Linked DNA regions of Homo sapiens: regions 1 and 3 are each linked to region 2. Evidence: fine-mapped expression QTL. A gene starts in region 2. Each other region holds a variant in brackets. All regions are shown on one strand. Distances are between the middles of the regions.

Region 1 (5,314 bases), 220 kb after region 2:
AGATTGCCTCGCTGAACCGACCGGCACTGCAGACACTTGCTGCCTTCATGGAGAATGACTAAGCAGCCAGAGGCCTGGAGTCAGTGCTGCCTTCATGGAGAATGACTGGGCAGCCGGAGGCCTGGAGTCAGTGCTGCCTTCATGGAGAATGACGGGGCAGCCGGAGGCCTGGAGTCAGTGCTGCCTTCATGGAGAATGACCGAGCAGCAGGAGGCCTGGAGTCAGGGTGCTTCTCTGCAGAGGTGCTTCTCTGGGGCTCACAGGTGACTGTATAAAGTCACATCTACAGATCAATCTGCAGTTCCTTTCTGGAATAGACAGAGACTCTCCAAGGGGAATAAACACAGGAGAGTTGGTGATTTCCGGCATCTCCTCAGCCCAGGCTGGTGTCAGACAAGGATCTCCCCACCGCGCACTCCTTGTTGCATTTAACCCAGAGTCAGTCCTCCTCTTAGGTCCTGGCACAGGAGTCTGATCAAAACACCCAGCACTCCTCTGAAGCAGGGTGCCTGTCAGAAGTGAGTGCATTGTGATAAAATAAACAAAATGCTTTTTATTCTCCAGCTTCTCAGATTCAAATAAAAAACGCATTGGGCTTTTTTACTCACTGCAAAAAAACAAAACAAAAAAAGCCTCATGTGTTTTTCATGTGAGTTTCTACTGCCTGATACACAAGACATTCTGGGTCCTCAGCCTCTCCCCAGCTCCTGGGTAAAGGGACTGCAACCGGTGGTGCTTCGCTCACAGCCACGGCCAGAACGCATCTCTCCAGCCCCTTCTCCCATGGCCCGTGAGACAGTTCTGTTCGTCGGATGCGGTAGAGCGACAGCTGCTTTTATTTTAGAGTCCTGGCAGGGAAGGACGGTTTAACTTCACACTCACAAGGTTTCTAGATTCAGAGAGCTCAATCTAGAAGCAGTTAGAGGCAGGGACTGGTGGACCCACCAGAGGCTGTGAGCAGAATCAGTGATTACGGAGCCCAGGGAGCAGAAGGCAGGTGAGAAGCTTCTGGACAGAGGGGTAGATTCAATCAGCCTCCCCACAGTCATGTCCACCCAGAACTGGGGCGCGGGGCCTAATTTGGAAATAGTGTGTTTGGAGATGTAACTAGGTGAAGGTGCGGTCGCACATCAGGGAGGGCCCTCGTTCAGTGACAGGCTTTGGAAAGAAAGGAGAGGGGAGTTTGGATAGAGACACAGACGCTCAGGGAGGAAGCCACGTGTGGATGGAGGCAGAGATCAGAGCCATGGAGCGCCCAGGAGCCTGGCAAGATGGGGAAGAGCCTGCCCTGGAGCTTTCGGAGGGTACATGGCCCTGTCCACACCTCGACTGAAGACTTCCGGCCTCCAGGGCATGAGAGGATGGGTTGCTGTTGTTTTAAGCCCCCAGTGTATACACATCCCAGTCTCTCTGTACTCTGCTCAGTGACATCGGGGCAGTCATGGTCTGATGGCCTGGGCAGAACAACTTGAGGGTCCCACTCCTCAGGGAGAGGACAGCAGTCCCAGTGTGCAGAGAAGTGTGCGGTCCTCCTTGGCTCCTCTGGGTGGCCTGCAGGTGAGAGAAAGGTGTGCCTGAAGGAGGCCATCACAGGCAGGAAACCATCATGTGGTCACTTTCTGGGGAGCGGGCCTGCCCAGCGCCATAGCTGCTGGGGGCCCGACATAGAAGGGGGCTCAGGGTGATGGGAACGTGGCCTTTCATGAGGTATCACTGTGTGCTGGTCTCCCGTGGACAGAAGCATCCCTCCTGCAGGAAGTGGATGGAGCCTCACCCCTCGCAGCCTCCTCTACCCCAGAGCTGCTCAGCAGGGCTGCTGAGACCGGAGTGAGGACAGTGAGATGGTGGTTTAGTCCTTTTTCATGCTGCTAATAAAGACATACTCGAGACTGGGTAATTTATACAGGAAAGAGGTTTAATGGACTCACCATTCTATGTGGCTGGGGAGGCCTCACAATCATGGTGGTAGGTGAAAGTCATGTGTCACGTGGGAGCAGGCAAGAGAAGAGAAGGGAATGAGAATCAAGAGAAAGGGGTTTCCACTGATAAAACCTTCAGATCTTGTGAGATTTATTAACTACCACAGAACAGTGTGGGGGACACCGCCCCCATGATCCAATTATCTCCCACCAGGTCCCTCCCACAAGACATGGGAATTACTGGAGTTACTATTCAAGATGAGATTTGGGTGGGGCACAGCCAAACCGTATCACATGGCTACAGGCACGGACGTACTCTCTGCCGTGGTCCACAATGCTTTACAGTTTAGGTCCAATGAGTCAGCGGCAGAATCATCACCCACCCTAGGGGGACGTTCCCGTTGATCTCAGTAGCATGACCTAATTCAAAGACTTTGGGCTTTTAGTTAGACCAGTCTGAGTTCAAATTTGAATTTGATGATTAACTAGTTGTTTACGTGTGATCAAGCTAACTAATTTCTGAGAACCGGGGTGTTCTCTCATCTTTAAAGTGGCCATAAAGTACCTTTCTAGATGTAAGGGTTCAAAGCATAGAATGTGCCCAGTGATCTAACATAGTGGCTGGTGCTGGAGAGGTTAGTGATCAAGAATTGCTAATACCGTGAGCAATTTCATTGATATACACCCTCAAAGGAATCTACTAGAATAGACAGAAGGATAGCCAGGTACCATGCCAGATGCTTGGAGTAAAACGAGGAGCAAGTCCAAGGTTATTTTTGTTTTCATGAAACTTACCTTCTACTGGGGTGGGAGGAGCTCAGAAAAAAAATCAGGTCATCCAGCAAATAGATAAGAATTTCAGAGACGGAGGAAGACGGTGATGAGCCAGGGTGACCTGGAGGGAGAGGGGAGCGCAGGGCACCCTGCACATGTCTGTTAGGGGGTGACACTTCAGCTGAGGCCCACGTGATGACAGTGGCCTGACCAAGCAACATCCCTGGGGAAATCTCACAGGGGCAAGAGGAGACAACGGGCAGCACTGAGGCGGGAGCCACTAGGGCATGTACCAGCGTGGCTGATGGCTTGGTCTGGGGCAGGTGTCCAGAGGCATGAATCCAGGCAGATGGGGAGCAAGTGAAGCAGCCCCCCTCAT[C/T]ATTTCAGGGCATGTAGAGGGCCAGCTGTGTTCCCCCAAATGACGCCCAAGTCCTAAATCTATGTATCTGTGAATATGACCTTATTTGAAAATGAGTCTGTCCAGATGTCATTAATATAAGGTCATCTTGGAGTAGGGCAGGCCCTAAACCCAAGGACTGTTGTCCTTATAAGAAGAAGAGGCACAGAGACACCCAAGGGGATGGGAGTGAGGTGTCTTCTGGTCAAAGATCACCAAGCATCGTGGCCACGCCAGCAGCTGGAGCGGGGCATGGGGCGGCTTCTCCCTCAGAGGTTCCACGAGAGGATCCGGCCCTGCCGACACCTGGATTTCAGCCTTCTGTGCTCCAGGGCTGTGAGAGGACACTTTCCATTGTCTTAAGCAGAAGTGCCAGTTGTGGTACTTTGTGACCCAGCGGTCACAAATGCATCCTTTTCCCACATAAGGCCAAGTGCTCTGGACAGCAGGGAAGAGGGTGTGTCCTGAGTAACCAGCACACAGGGCTGGAGTGCAGGGTCCTGGAGGCCTCCGTGGGTTACCTGACTCCTACTTTGCTCTTTCTTTTCTTTTCTTTCTTTTTTTTTTTTTGAGACAGGGTTTCACTCTGTTGCCCAGGCTGGAGTGCAGTGGGGCAATCTCAGTTCACTGCAAACTCTGCCTCCTGGGTTCAAGCGATTCTCCCTCTTCAGCTTCCTGAGTAGCTGGGATTACAGGTGCCTGCCACCATGCCTGGCTAATTTTTGTATTTTGAGTAGAGACGGGGTTTCAGCATGTTGGCCAGGCTGGTCTCGAACTCTTGACCTCGGGTGATCTGCCTGCCTTGGCCTCCTAAAGTGCTGGGATTACAGGTATGAGCCACTGTGCTTTGCATCTTTCAAAGCACGTTTGCATCCACCATCTTACCGTGAGACTGTGGAGGCGGGGGCAGAGCAGTGCAGGGAGAACCGTGGTGGCGGGGAGGTGCCAACTTCTAGGCCTGATGCTTGCTGGGGTGTGGAGTGGGCTCCAGGAGGGCCAGGGCGGGGTCTGTCCTTCTGAACCGCTCTGTCCCTGTCCCCAGCGCAGTGATACAGAATGAGCGCTCTGTCCCAGAGTGTGGGATGTACTCACAAGGGGCTGAGTCATCTCCGTGAGCCTCAGTTTACCCATGCATCACAAGCTTGCATTTTTATATCCTCACCCGATCAACGCTTGTCTTTCCCACTGGGATGTCAGCCCCACACAAGCCAGGGCCTCTCAGCTTTGTGTCCACTGTGTCTCCAGTGCCTGTCGGGCCACCTGGACGTAGTTGGTGCTCAGGAAACACTGGACAGAGGAGAGAAACAGAAAGGGCGGATATCCGGGTAAATGTAACAGGCTAGACCAGGCTGTTTTTCTCCTGGTAGACTCTTTCATGTACATAAATGACACTTCAACGAAAATGTAGAACACTGTGATGGGGTTTCAGGTATATAGATGGAGCATGTAAGAATTCCACTTGGAATGGCAAGTTTTAATTCTGAGTAGATTGTTTAAATTTAAATATGTATATTGAGTTCCCTGGGGCAACCACTAGGAGTGACATAAAAACATACAGAACAGCACTCCATGGAGACATTAAAATTGAAAACCAGGCTGGGCATGGTGGCTCCCGCCTGGAATCCCAGCACTTTGGGAGGTTGAGGCAGGCAGATCACCTGAGGTCAGGAGTTTGAGACCAGCCTGGCCAACATGCTGAAACCCCGTCTCTACTAAAAATACAAAAATTAACCAGGCGTGGTGGTACACGCCTGTAATCCCAGCTACTCAGGAAGCTGAAGCATGAGAATTGCTTGAACTCAGGAGGTGGAGGTTGCAGTGAGCCGAGATCACGCCATTGCACTCCAGCCTGGGCAACAGAGCGAGATTCCATCTCAAAAACAAAACAAAACGAACAAAAAGAAACAACAAAAAACAAAAAGAAGGCAGGAAAGGGGAGATCAAATAATGAAAATGGGAGGGAACTAACAGAAGCCAAATCGAGTGGCAGACCTAAATAAAACTTAGTGATATTTACATGAAACTTAATTCCTGTGCAGGTCACTTTGTTTTTTTGTTTTGTTTTGGTTTTTTGAGCTACGATCTCACTCTCTCACCCAGGCTGGAGTGCAGTGCGTTATCTAGGCTCACTGCAGCCTCCGCCTCCTGCGCCCAAGCCATCCTCCTGCCTGAGCCCCAGTCCCCTGAATAGCTGGGACTACAGGTGTTTGCCACCACATTTGGC
Region 2 (5,314 bases):
AACTCTTTGGTCTCAAGTTGTCCAGCTGAAAAAGTGGGCTCCTCACGCCGAGACCCATGACATGCAGCCCCACACACATGGGATACTGCAGACGACAGTGCAGCCATGACAGAGACTCAGTGGGGCTGGTGCAGACAGCAATGGCCCTGTATGGGGAGAACCCAGCATCTTTGAATGGAAACATTTTTTGCAGCTTATTTGTTTTCGAACCTTGGCTTTTTGGCCTAAATGTTCCATGGCATTCCTTAACAATTAATTTCCTCTCTGCTGAGAAAACAAAGGTGGAGAGTCATTTTCATGCCACTGAATGACCTTTTAAAAGATTGAATCCTTTCTAAGGGGGAATAGCTTTATTTCCTTCTGTCAAATATTTCATTTGTCCCCTAGAAGAGCCCCGTGAAGTAGACATTATGTGATAAGCAGACACGATCGTTTTACAGATGTGGGAAAAGACTGACCTGCTCCAGGCCACACAGATGGAGTCAGGAAGGGGCAGACTGGGTCAGTGGGGCCCAATTCACAGGCACTTTCTACGGTCTTTTCATATGTTTTTATGGAGGTAAAGTTCACATCACATAAAATTAACCATTTTAAAGTAAACAATTCAGCGGCATTTAATACATTCACAGTCTTGTGCAACTGCCACCTCTCTCTTGTTCCAATGTGTTCTCACCACCCCAAAAGGAAACCCCACTCCAGTAAGGAGTCACTCCTCATCTCCTCTCCTCCTAGCCCTCAGCAACCACCAGTCTCCTTTCTGTCTCTATGAATTCGCCTATTTTGGATATTTCATAAAAATGGGCTCATACGATAGATGGGCTTTGTGTCTGGCTTCTTTCCCCAGCATGGTGCTCTCAAGGTCCATCCATGTGGTAGCAGGAATCACATACTCCATTCCTTTTTCCTGGCTGAATAATATTGCATTGTATGGATATGCCACATTTTGTTTCCCCATTCATCCATTGATGGGCACTTGTGTCATTTCTACCCTTTGGCTGTTGAGAGCAGCGCAGCTGTGAACATGTGTGTACGAGTATCTGGTAACCAGTCCCTTCCACGATTTTCTGCAGTCTTGTAGTTTCTGTGACCTGATAACTCTGCTGCAGGGTGAAAAGGAATCATCTGTGGTTTGCCACCTACTCCTGGATACAGCACGTATCTCTTTGTTCCATGCACAGAGGCTGGGGCCACTCTACACGGGGCTTGAAAGAAGCCTCCAGTCTTGCAGCCAAATTCAGAGGCATATAATTCAGAAGCCTATCCGGGAGGCCAAAATGAGTCCTGACTGGGAAAACTCGCTGGACCCGTCTGCCACAGTGTTGAAAAAGTTGTCTTGGGAAGAGGTTTCCTCTGGCTGTCTAGGTTTGAGACCTTTGCGATTCCTTTAAGATCACAAGCAAAACCACGGTGATGGTAGGATGTGTTGGTTTTACTAAGGAGCCCATTTTTTAAAAAACTTGTAAAGTGAGCCTTAATTGGAGAAGCAACAGAAAGCACCTCGGGACAAGTCCTTCCTTTTTGTACAAAGGACCCGTGGTGAGCCCTTCCTTGGAATTCTCGTGTCCTACACTCGAGTCTTGTCCCTGCACAGGGCCATCATTAGTAGGAGCCCTCAGAGCCTCAATTAGGGTATGTGGAGCCCAAAATACCAAAGGGGCTTTCCTCCGCATGAGCTATCTTATTCAGCACCTTTCAGTAACAAGCCATGGGATTTTTACCCCAGGGAAGGAAGCAAGTGTGTGAAGTCCGTGCGTGTTTCCCAGGGTTTTTTCCCTCCTGCACCACCCGGTTGCTAGGTAGCGGGTATATCTGTGCCACCACCTGAAGTTCTGTGGGAAGGGGGAATCTGCGGGGCCACTGGAGGCTTGGGGTGGGGAGGGGAGCCGGACAGGAGAGCAAAGACCCAGGCAGCTTGGGTCGCTCCTCTTCATCACTTAATTCTGAGGGCGCTTGAGTTTCTGAGCTTCCTGGAGTAGAGCCCAGGGCAGCTTTTACTTTGATGTGCTGATCGGTTGCCTGTCGGTTGCAGGAGACCCCCGGCCTCCTGCAGGGAAGATCCTGTGCTGTTTTCCCAGGGATGGAGAGAAAAGCACCAACCCCAAGCCCCGCATGGCTGAGAGCTGTTTGCCTCCATCTCTGTCCGAGCTTTTCACCACAGCTCTGTGAAAGAAACTGGCAGTGAGGGGTATAGCCATCTTGGTGTGTGTATGCGCACGTGTGTGTGCATGTGTATTTGTGTGTGTGTGTGTGTGCGTTCAAACACTGACGTTTCAGAGGCTCTGGTTACTGCTGCATGGCGGATGATCCTCTCTCTCTCCCTCTCTCTCCCTCCCTCTCTCCCTCTCGACCTGCTTGCCTGCCTGCAGAAAACTAATGAATCATGTCTAGCTGAATGCAAGCAGTGCAGACACACCAATGCCCTGCAATGTTGACTGGGCGCCGCCTCTGCCTGCCTCTCGCTCCCTGTCTCTCCCTCTGCTGCTCCCTCCCTCCCTCTCTCCCTCTCCCCCTCCTCCCTCCCTCCTTCTCTCCCTCTCCCCCTCCTCCCTCCCTCCGTCTCGCCCCCAGTTTGTAATCTGACACAGTACACTGCAGTTGTCTCCGAGGTGAACCTCCGGAGCCTTGGCACAGCTCGCTTCTAAAGGTAGGCTGAGATTTATTTTTTTCTCCTAAAAATAGCTTCCCGTCTCCCCTCGCCTTTCTGCACCCGAGCTGCAGCGGCGTTGATCACAGGGGGTTAGCCGGAAACTCTTTGCCCAGACAAAGTTTATCTTGCAGCGGATGGAGAATGCCCTTCAGCGTGGGGTCCGGGGGCGCTGGGTGCGGGGAGCAGCGGCTCGCCCTGCTGGCATGTCGGTGCTGCTTGGAATTCAGGATCGTCTCGGAAGGGAAGGGCTGACGGGCTTCTTCCTGGGTGCCGGGTGTCAGCTGCAGGGGTGCTGTGGCTCTGTCATGGCCCCCACCCCAGGCTTTTAAGAAAGGCCCCTCCAGGCAAAGTTTGGCACCCGATGGACACGGCCCCGCTCGCCTGGGGAGTGCGCCCCAGGCTTCTCAGACAGCAGCGGCTCAGGGCCTGGACTTGTCTTCTTGGGGGCGGGGTGGAGGGGGGGAAGGGGACGTGGGACAAACACATCAGAGTCCCCAGCTCGGCTCAGGTGCAAATGCACAAAGCCCGCAGGCTGCGCCCAGGAATCTGTCAATTCACGTCCCATGGACTGACTTGAATAATGTGTTTGTCAAAACAGATGTTCCCCGGCAGAGTGTGTGCGTGCATGCGTGTGCCTGTGTGAGCAGTGTGCGCGGGCTGCTGGCCGGGGGCAGACTCTCCCAGTGGAAACCGTATTTCACCGGGAAAGGCAGCGCGTACGGGACCACCCGCCCAGGAGCTTAGGTCTGGGTAGGTCCAGGTGGGGGCCCGGACATCTGTCAGCAGAGGCCTCGGTGGAAGCAGCCTCCCTCCTGTCCCCGGGGAGCGCACGCTGGCTGAGGTCGGGGTGGCGGCTGGCCGGAGGGAGGGAGGACTGCTTCACCTCCCGGCCTGGTCACTGGCCCCGGGGGAGGCGGGGGTGCTGGCTCCGTGCCTGCGTGGCCTCTGGGTCCCTGGAGGTTCTTAGGGTGAGTGAGGAGGGAGGGAAGGGGACCCTGTCCAGCCCCATATTTCTCTCACGGAGGAGCCCTGAAGGAGACTCTGCTCACAAGGGTGAAAACCCCACTTCGTCCAGGGAAGGGAAATGTCACAGATGGAGCAGGCCTGAGAGGAGGGAGAGCGGCTCCCTCTGAAAATGGAAGATCGGTGGGAAGAGGAGGTGTCCGGGCTCTGGGCCCTGCGGCAGGCCAGGCTGCTGGGCTCTGAGCAGGAGTGGGCAGGGGAGGGGAGCTGGCGTGCAGGCTCACTCACCCGGTTTCTAAGGGGAACAGTGGGGGAAGGCTCTAAAAAATCACCACCTCCCCCACGCACATGGCCCCTCCCTGGCTCCCTCCCAGCCTTGCTGGGCTGTCCGGGAATCAGCTTCAGACTCATCCCCCGCTGGGCTGTGGGGTCTTGGCTTGTCCTGTGAGACATGATCCCAAGCTCCCAGTGGGATGGGCAGGGTCTGACCGGCTCCGGAGGTTCCCTGGGGGCACGGTGTGAGGGGAAGGCCGGCGGGCACCCCTTCTGCAGTGGGGGGTGGTGGGGCGTGCCTGGGGTCGAGGGCTGTGCCGTGGCCATATGGCAGCCGCCTGGGGCCCAGAGTGGAGCCCTTCCAGGTTATTTCAGGGAAGGCGCTGGCAGCGGCTATTCCCCCGTGCCCCTTCCTAGAGGATGGCAAACTGGGTCAGGGAGAGGGTGGCACTGCCCACGTGCCCGGGAGACAGGAAGATGCTGGCGCTATGGGGGCCGCCCCCCACGCAGGAGGCAGGCGCCACGCAGCCCTCCCCGGGGCATAGCAGCCGGCCTCCCCCATGCTGCAAGCCCGGCAGAGAACCCCAAGCCTGCAGAGTCCGGGGGTGGGCGTGGGTGGTGGAGAAGCCTCCCAGGTGAGGCCAGCGTGCAGCCGGGCTGAGAGCTCCTGGCCATGAAGATGAAAAGACAAGCGGTGGGCCCTACACTGTAGCTTTCAGTTTCATCTCTTTGGCCCCATGCACTGTTGGCGCCTGGAAGAGACCAGCATGTGCTCAGGGGGCGGGAGGAGAGGCAGGAGCTGGCTCTTTCCTGAGCTTGCTTCGCTTTCCATTTCAAATCCACCCCCTGCCACGTTTGTATTTTTGGAGTCTGGTTGAAGTTTTAATTGGAGCAGCGATTCTCACACGTTGGTGAGCGCTGGCATCCTGGCGGGTGGGTTAAGGGGCTACAAATCTCAGAACCTCTGATCCAGCAGGTCTGGGGAGGAGCCGGGAATCCGCATTCCCACGCAGTCCCAGGGGAGGTGGAGGCATCCAGGGACCCCACTTTGAGGATCCTTGAATACAGCGTGACCAGGAGGCGCTTTACGCATCTCTGGGGCATGTTGCCAGCTCTCTGTTGGCCTTTGGCTGAGGTCATACATGAAGCTGAGTGCACGCCTCATAGGTTGGTCTAGACCCGCAAGTGCCAAACCTCAGGGACCAGAGGGCCTGACCCGGGAGCTTCCTTTGTGTCCGGGAGTCTCCCTAGGGCACGGCAATGAGCATCTGTTCCAGGTGGGCGGAGACTTGCCGGCTGAACGTCTCAGTGTTTCCCACTTCTGCCCCAAGGTTTGGAATCCGCGTGGTGCTGGGAACCCGGGGGAGAACCGGATCGGCTGTGCTGGTCTCTTGTTGATCAAGCAGAGCTGCTGATTCCAGAAAACTCTGT
Region 3 (5,314 bases), 25 kb before region 2:
ACAGGAAGAAACCCTAAGAAAATATAGTGCGGTCTATTTTACTACAACTATATCTGGAGCTTAAAATGAAAAGGAAGAAAATTGTTACATTCGTTTAAAATGGGTTTGAGCAAAGCAATAGAATACATGGCTAACAGTGGCTTAACACATAGGGCTTTGTTTTTCTCACAAGAGGAGGGGTTTGAATATGGTCAACTGAGAGCAAGGATTCAATGCATCGAGGATGCCTGGCTGTCGTTCTTATGATTCTCTGGGCCTTTGCCTCGTGGTTGAAGGATGGCTGCCACAGCTCCAGCCATCACATCTGAATTCAGAATGGGAAGCAGGAGAATGAGGAATGAGGGATAACACTAATTTCATTTGTTTCCTCTTATAAGGAAAGCCAGCACTTTCCCAGAACTCTCTCCTCTCTATGCCCGTCAGATTTTTGCTTAGACCTCATTGGCCAGAAGAGTGTAACACAGCTACCTGTTGCTCCAGCAGAATCAGGGTTCACTGCCACCCTGAATTAATCAGTATATTTCTGTTTATATAGGAAAAGGGGTGAATGGATATCAGAAAGCATTAGCAGTATCTGTCCCATTAGGGGTACTGAGTTTTGCCTAATGACTTTCTCCTCTTCTGTTTAGGAGAACTGTTCACCCTGTACCTCACCAGGGAGAGGGCGATGCCCTCTGCAAGGGTTCTCTCCACCAAATCCAAAGGTCATCAGTGCCACAGAGAATCCCAGCCCCTCCAGCAGGTGCCCAGGGATGCCAGTCTGGACAGACACCCAGAAATCAGTCTACTGGAGGTGAACAGTGAGGGCCTGGGGTGGGGTCGGTGTTCAGGTAGCTCAGAGTAAATGCCCTTTGCATTACTGGCCTGTAGATAAATGAGCCTGGAGAGCATGGCCCCCAGGAATGACACAAAGAAAAGAGCTTTCTCTGTCTTTGGGATGATTTAGAGATTTTTCTACTGCCTTAAAAAACTTTTATTATTTTGATATAATTTAATGCAGAAAAGCAGCAAGAATAGTGTAAATAACTCCTTCAAACCTTTATCCAGAATTATTAAACTGTTTATATTTTGCCCCAATTTTTTATCATTGGTTTCTTGGTATCTATCTATCTATCTATCTATCTATCTATCTATCTATCTATCTATATCTATTAATCATCTATCAATCTATTGATCATCTATTATCTATCATCTGGCTATTATCTATCATCTGTCTACCTATCACCTATCTATTACCTTATTACCTATCAATTATCTATCTATCCATCTTCTATCTGTCATCCCTCTATCGTCTGCTATCCATACAGAGAGAAGAGAGGGAAATAGAGGAAAGAGATTTTCCCCCAGAATTATCTATTTGAAAGTAAATTCAGATATCTTATCCTTTATCCTTAATATTTCAGTGTGTTTTTTTCTAAAAACAAGGAGATTCTCTTATACCACCACAATACAAAGTTCAAAATCTGAAAATCTAATACTGATACAATACTATGACCTAATCTGCAGTCCCTATTCTCATTTGATCAACTGCCCCAATAACTTCCTAATGGCCACTTTGTTTCCCAGTCCAGAGGCCGACCCAGGATCTCACACTGCATGTGTTGGCCACGTGTTCCAGTCTCCTTCCATCTGGAGCAGTCCCCGTCTCTTTGACCCGATTGAAGAGTATAGCAAGTTACTCTGCAGGCCGTCCCTGGGTTTGGGTTTGCTTGGTGTTTCGTCATGATTTGGTTTAGTTGTGCGTCCTTGGCAGGCCCATGATATGTAGATAAGTTACTGTGGAAGTGACGTCCTGGCCTCAGTATCCCTATCAGGACGCGCAGGACTTTGGTCGGTCCCGCTGCTGGTGATGTTGACTTTGGTCGCCTGGTTCAGGTAGTGTCTGTTATAGATTTCCCACTCTGAGGCTACTGGTTTCCCCTTTGTAATTAATAAATAGTTCATGGGGAGATGCTTTGAAGCTGTGTAAATATCTGGTATTTCACCCATATATTAGAGGTGCAGCCCCCATAGCTTTTTTACCAGTAGGGATATCTAAAATTTAGAAATCTTTGATCATTCCTGCCAGTAGAGGTATGCTAAATATATGTATATGATCAAAATGTTTGGAAAAAACTTTGACCAAAAACAAACAAAACATTTGACCAGGGAACAGCAAACGTTTTCTGTAAAGAATGAGACAGTAAATATTTTAGGCTCAGCTGGCCTTATAGTCTCTGTCACTACTAGTTAAC[C/T]TTGCCATAAGAGTGCAGAAGCTGCCATGGAGAATATGTAAGCAATTAGCTGTGACAGCGTTCCATTAAAACTTCATTTATAAAAACAAGCGGTGGGCCAGAATTGGTTCATGGGCCATAGTCTACTGATCTGCACCTTATGCCACAGTCAACTTGTTTGGCCCTGAAAACTCAGAATTCCTCCTTAGGGGTGATATTTCTACTCTCTAGCCTCTGACCTAGAAGCTTTAGGGTCTTAATTGCTGGCACATAAATTTGCAATGAAGGAATCAAATTGTGCAGCAGCCTGTTGTATGATCTCAAGGGCGCTGACATCAACTGGGCTTAGAACGGCCAAGTCCCCTTTGCCTGTGTCAAGAGGTTTTCCTCTAGAAACTTGTATTAGTCTTTTCTCATGCTGCTAATAAACACATACTCGAGACTGGGCAATTTACAAAGGAAAGAGGTTTAATGGACTCATAGTTCCACCTGGCTGGGGAGGCCTCACAATCATTGCAGAAGGCCAGGAGAAGCAAAGGCATGTCTTACATGGCGGCAGGCAAGAGAGAAAGATCAGCTCTCGTGAGACTCGTTCACTCCCACAAGAACAGTATGGGGAAAACCGCCCACATGATTCCGTCATCTCCAACTGGGTCCCTCCCACAACATGTGGGAATTGTGGGAGCTACAGTTCAAGATGAGATTTGGGTGGGGAACAGCCAAACTATATCAAAATTATTATAAAGAAGGACCTCAACCAAGAGCTGACACACATGGGTTTTGTTTGTCTTGTACAGTTTTAAATTAATCTGAGTTATTTTTGGTGGGCATGGGCTCCTCCAGTTCCCACGAGCCCCACTCCCTGCTTCTGCCTCCCGCCTCCCCGCATTTATGGGTTCCGCTTGACCGTGAGATGATGTTTCTTTTCCACCTCTTTGTGAGGTCTTGACAATTAGGGAATCATTTTCTAGAATTCCTATCTCTTGCAGCCATAGGATGCTAAATCCCAAAAGGAAAATTCACCAAATCAGGATGTTTATATTTAGTGCCTCAATTAGCCACACTCCAAGAAGAGAATTTTCATCATTGTAAGGCACACTCCAGGGAACCCAGCGCTTCAGAAGGATGTGGCTCTTTGCTTAGTTTGTTTAGCTCTGTCTGGTTGTGCAGATTGGGCAACATAACCTGGATCGGCCAGGACACTTCTGGATCAAAGTGTTGCACCCACAGCCGGTTCTTGGTGGCACAAGAGCCCAGGCTTCTAGTCCCAGGGTGTTTCGGGTGGGCGCCAGCAAGTCAGCAGCCGAGGGGAATGAGTGTTCTAGGCTTGGGGGTTGGTTGGAGACAATCTGTTAGTTTATTTTCTCAGAGAGGGAGGTTTGTGGGCAATTCCCACAGTGGGACTAGATTGAGATAGTCAACCTTCTGTGTGATAGCTGCCACACAGGCTTGACCAGCAGTGGGGTTCTTGCTCCTGGATTTCCAGCCAATGGGGCAGGGGTGTCAGCCAGTGAAACACACAACGTGAAGATGTCCGGCACTGGCGGAAACATGCAGCGTGAGCACATGTAGGAACGTATCTGGGGAGACGTATATATGTGGACTCTGTAGGAATCTGTCTATCGGGGAAGGATGTGGGGGTGCTGGAGACCCACATCTCAAGCCATCTCTGTGTATTCTGTTTTTTTTTCCTTTGCAAAGAGGATTGATACGTATTTTAAAAAGTTGAAGTGGATGTTTCATGCTCATGTTTTGCAGCCCTGATTTTGGGGTTTTGGAAATAGTCCAGCAAAAGTTTGCCTGATTCCATTAAAAAATCCAAATACAGACTTTCTCATCGCAAGAGAACCTTCTCTTTACCAGAGCACTGGGAGCACCCAGACCGTGGAGGGGACCCTCTTAGGGGGAAAGGTCAAACTGGAGTCACTGAGCTGAAGCCGCTCGGTGTCAGGTGGAACCAAGTGTCCCCAAAGGGCCCTCTCCTGGGCTTCCTCCCGTGGGGGCCCCTCTGCGGGGATGGGGTCACTGGCCGTCTCTCACGCCCTGCTTTCCCTCTCATGCTGTATCTGTGGTCTATCCTTATGCCTGGCAGGTGTCACCAACTTTAAGTTGTGCGACTTGGGGCTCACACACTCACACCCTTCCAGGGTGGGAGGGACGAACAAGCGGGTGAAGCCAGACAGAGGATGCTGGGGTGGGCAGGGGAGCGGAGGGCCCAAGGACAGTGGGCACCCCCTGCCCAGAGGCTGCCAACTGCTGGCCTGAGGGCAGAGGGCCAGTGTCCCTAGATCTGGTTTTTCAAGAGAAGTCAGAAATCTGGAATTGCGTGTGCAACCCCCAGATTTTTAAATCTTGCCATCAAATTCAGTTTAAAAATTGGGTGGACCAAAATGTATACAGGCTCAGTTCCACCTCAGGCTGCAGGCTGACTTGTGGAATCAGTTCAAGGGCACTGTAAGGTCATAGTTATCCTGGAGGACGTGTTAGTCTCTGGGTTTGCTGAATAATCCAGCTGTGCCAGTTAGGCCTGGGCGCAGCTGCTTCTACAGGCAAAAATAATAGTGGCTTAGACATAGACGTTTACTCCTTTCTCATGTAACAGAAATCTAGGGCTGAGGTGGGCAGATCATCTGAGCTGAGGAGTTCAAGACCAGCCTGGTCCACATGGTGAAACCCTGTCTCTACAAAAAATACAAACATTAGCTGGGCGCAGTGATACACACTTGTAATCCCAGCTACTTGGGAGGCTGAGGCAGGAGAATCGCTTGAGCCCAGGAGGTGGAGGCTGCAGTGAACAAAGATCATGTCATTGCACTCTAGCTGGGGCAACCAGAGTGAAACCTTGTCTAAAAAAAAAAAAAAAAAAAAAAAAAATTCCAGAAGCTAGTTTGGCAGCTCCAAGAGGGACTGAGCTTTTATCTTTTTGCTTTATCATCCTCATGTGAAGACTCCATTCTTAAGGTGACCTCATAGGCCAGTATGGTGGCTGAAGCTCCAGCCATCACATCCACATTCCAGGTGGTAGACCAGAAGAAGGGGAAATGGGACAAGAATGCCCCTCCCAGAGGGGCCTACCTTTAAGCAGCCTTTCCTGCAGTTTG

Alleles and levels. Positions count from the first base shown, and alleles are read on the strand shown. Sizes are in standard deviations (SD) of each study's normalised expression. Not every link is listed here.
In carriers of allele C in region 1, the expression in B cells of the gene that starts at base 2,567 in region 2 tends to be lower than with T alone (moderate effect, 0.64 SD a copy in Fairfax 2012).

The links. PIP is the estimated chance that this variant, and not a neighbour inherited with it, causes the effect. A credible set is the group of variants that fine-mapping cannot tell apart.
Region 1: its variant is the best candidate, but not a certain one, in a credible set for the expression of RIMBP2 in B cells (Fairfax 2012, PIP 0.51).
Region 3: its variant is the best candidate, but not a certain one, in a credible set for the expression of RIMBP2 in liver (GTEx, PIP 0.72).

The regions. Positions count from the first base shown.
Region 1 is chr12:130,492,985-130,498,298 of GRCh38, reverse strand. All of the region lies in intron 4 of RIMBP2 (RIMS binding protein 2), which reads left to right. Among named protein-coding and RNA genes, the nearest start is that of PIWIL1, 160 kb to the right of the region's middle. The variant C/T (reference allele first, on the strand shown) is at 3,073.
Region 2 is chr12:130,713,552-130,718,865 of GRCh38, reverse strand. RIMBP2 (RIMS binding protein 2) reads left to right here and starts at 2,567. Exons shown (of 23, transcript NM_001393629.1): 1 at 2,567-2,644.
Region 3 is chr12:130,738,779-130,744,092 of GRCh38, reverse strand. No RefSeq gene overlaps it. Among named protein-coding and RNA genes, the nearest start is that of RIMBP2, 25 kb to the right of the region's middle. The variant C/T (reference allele first, on the strand shown) is at 2,235.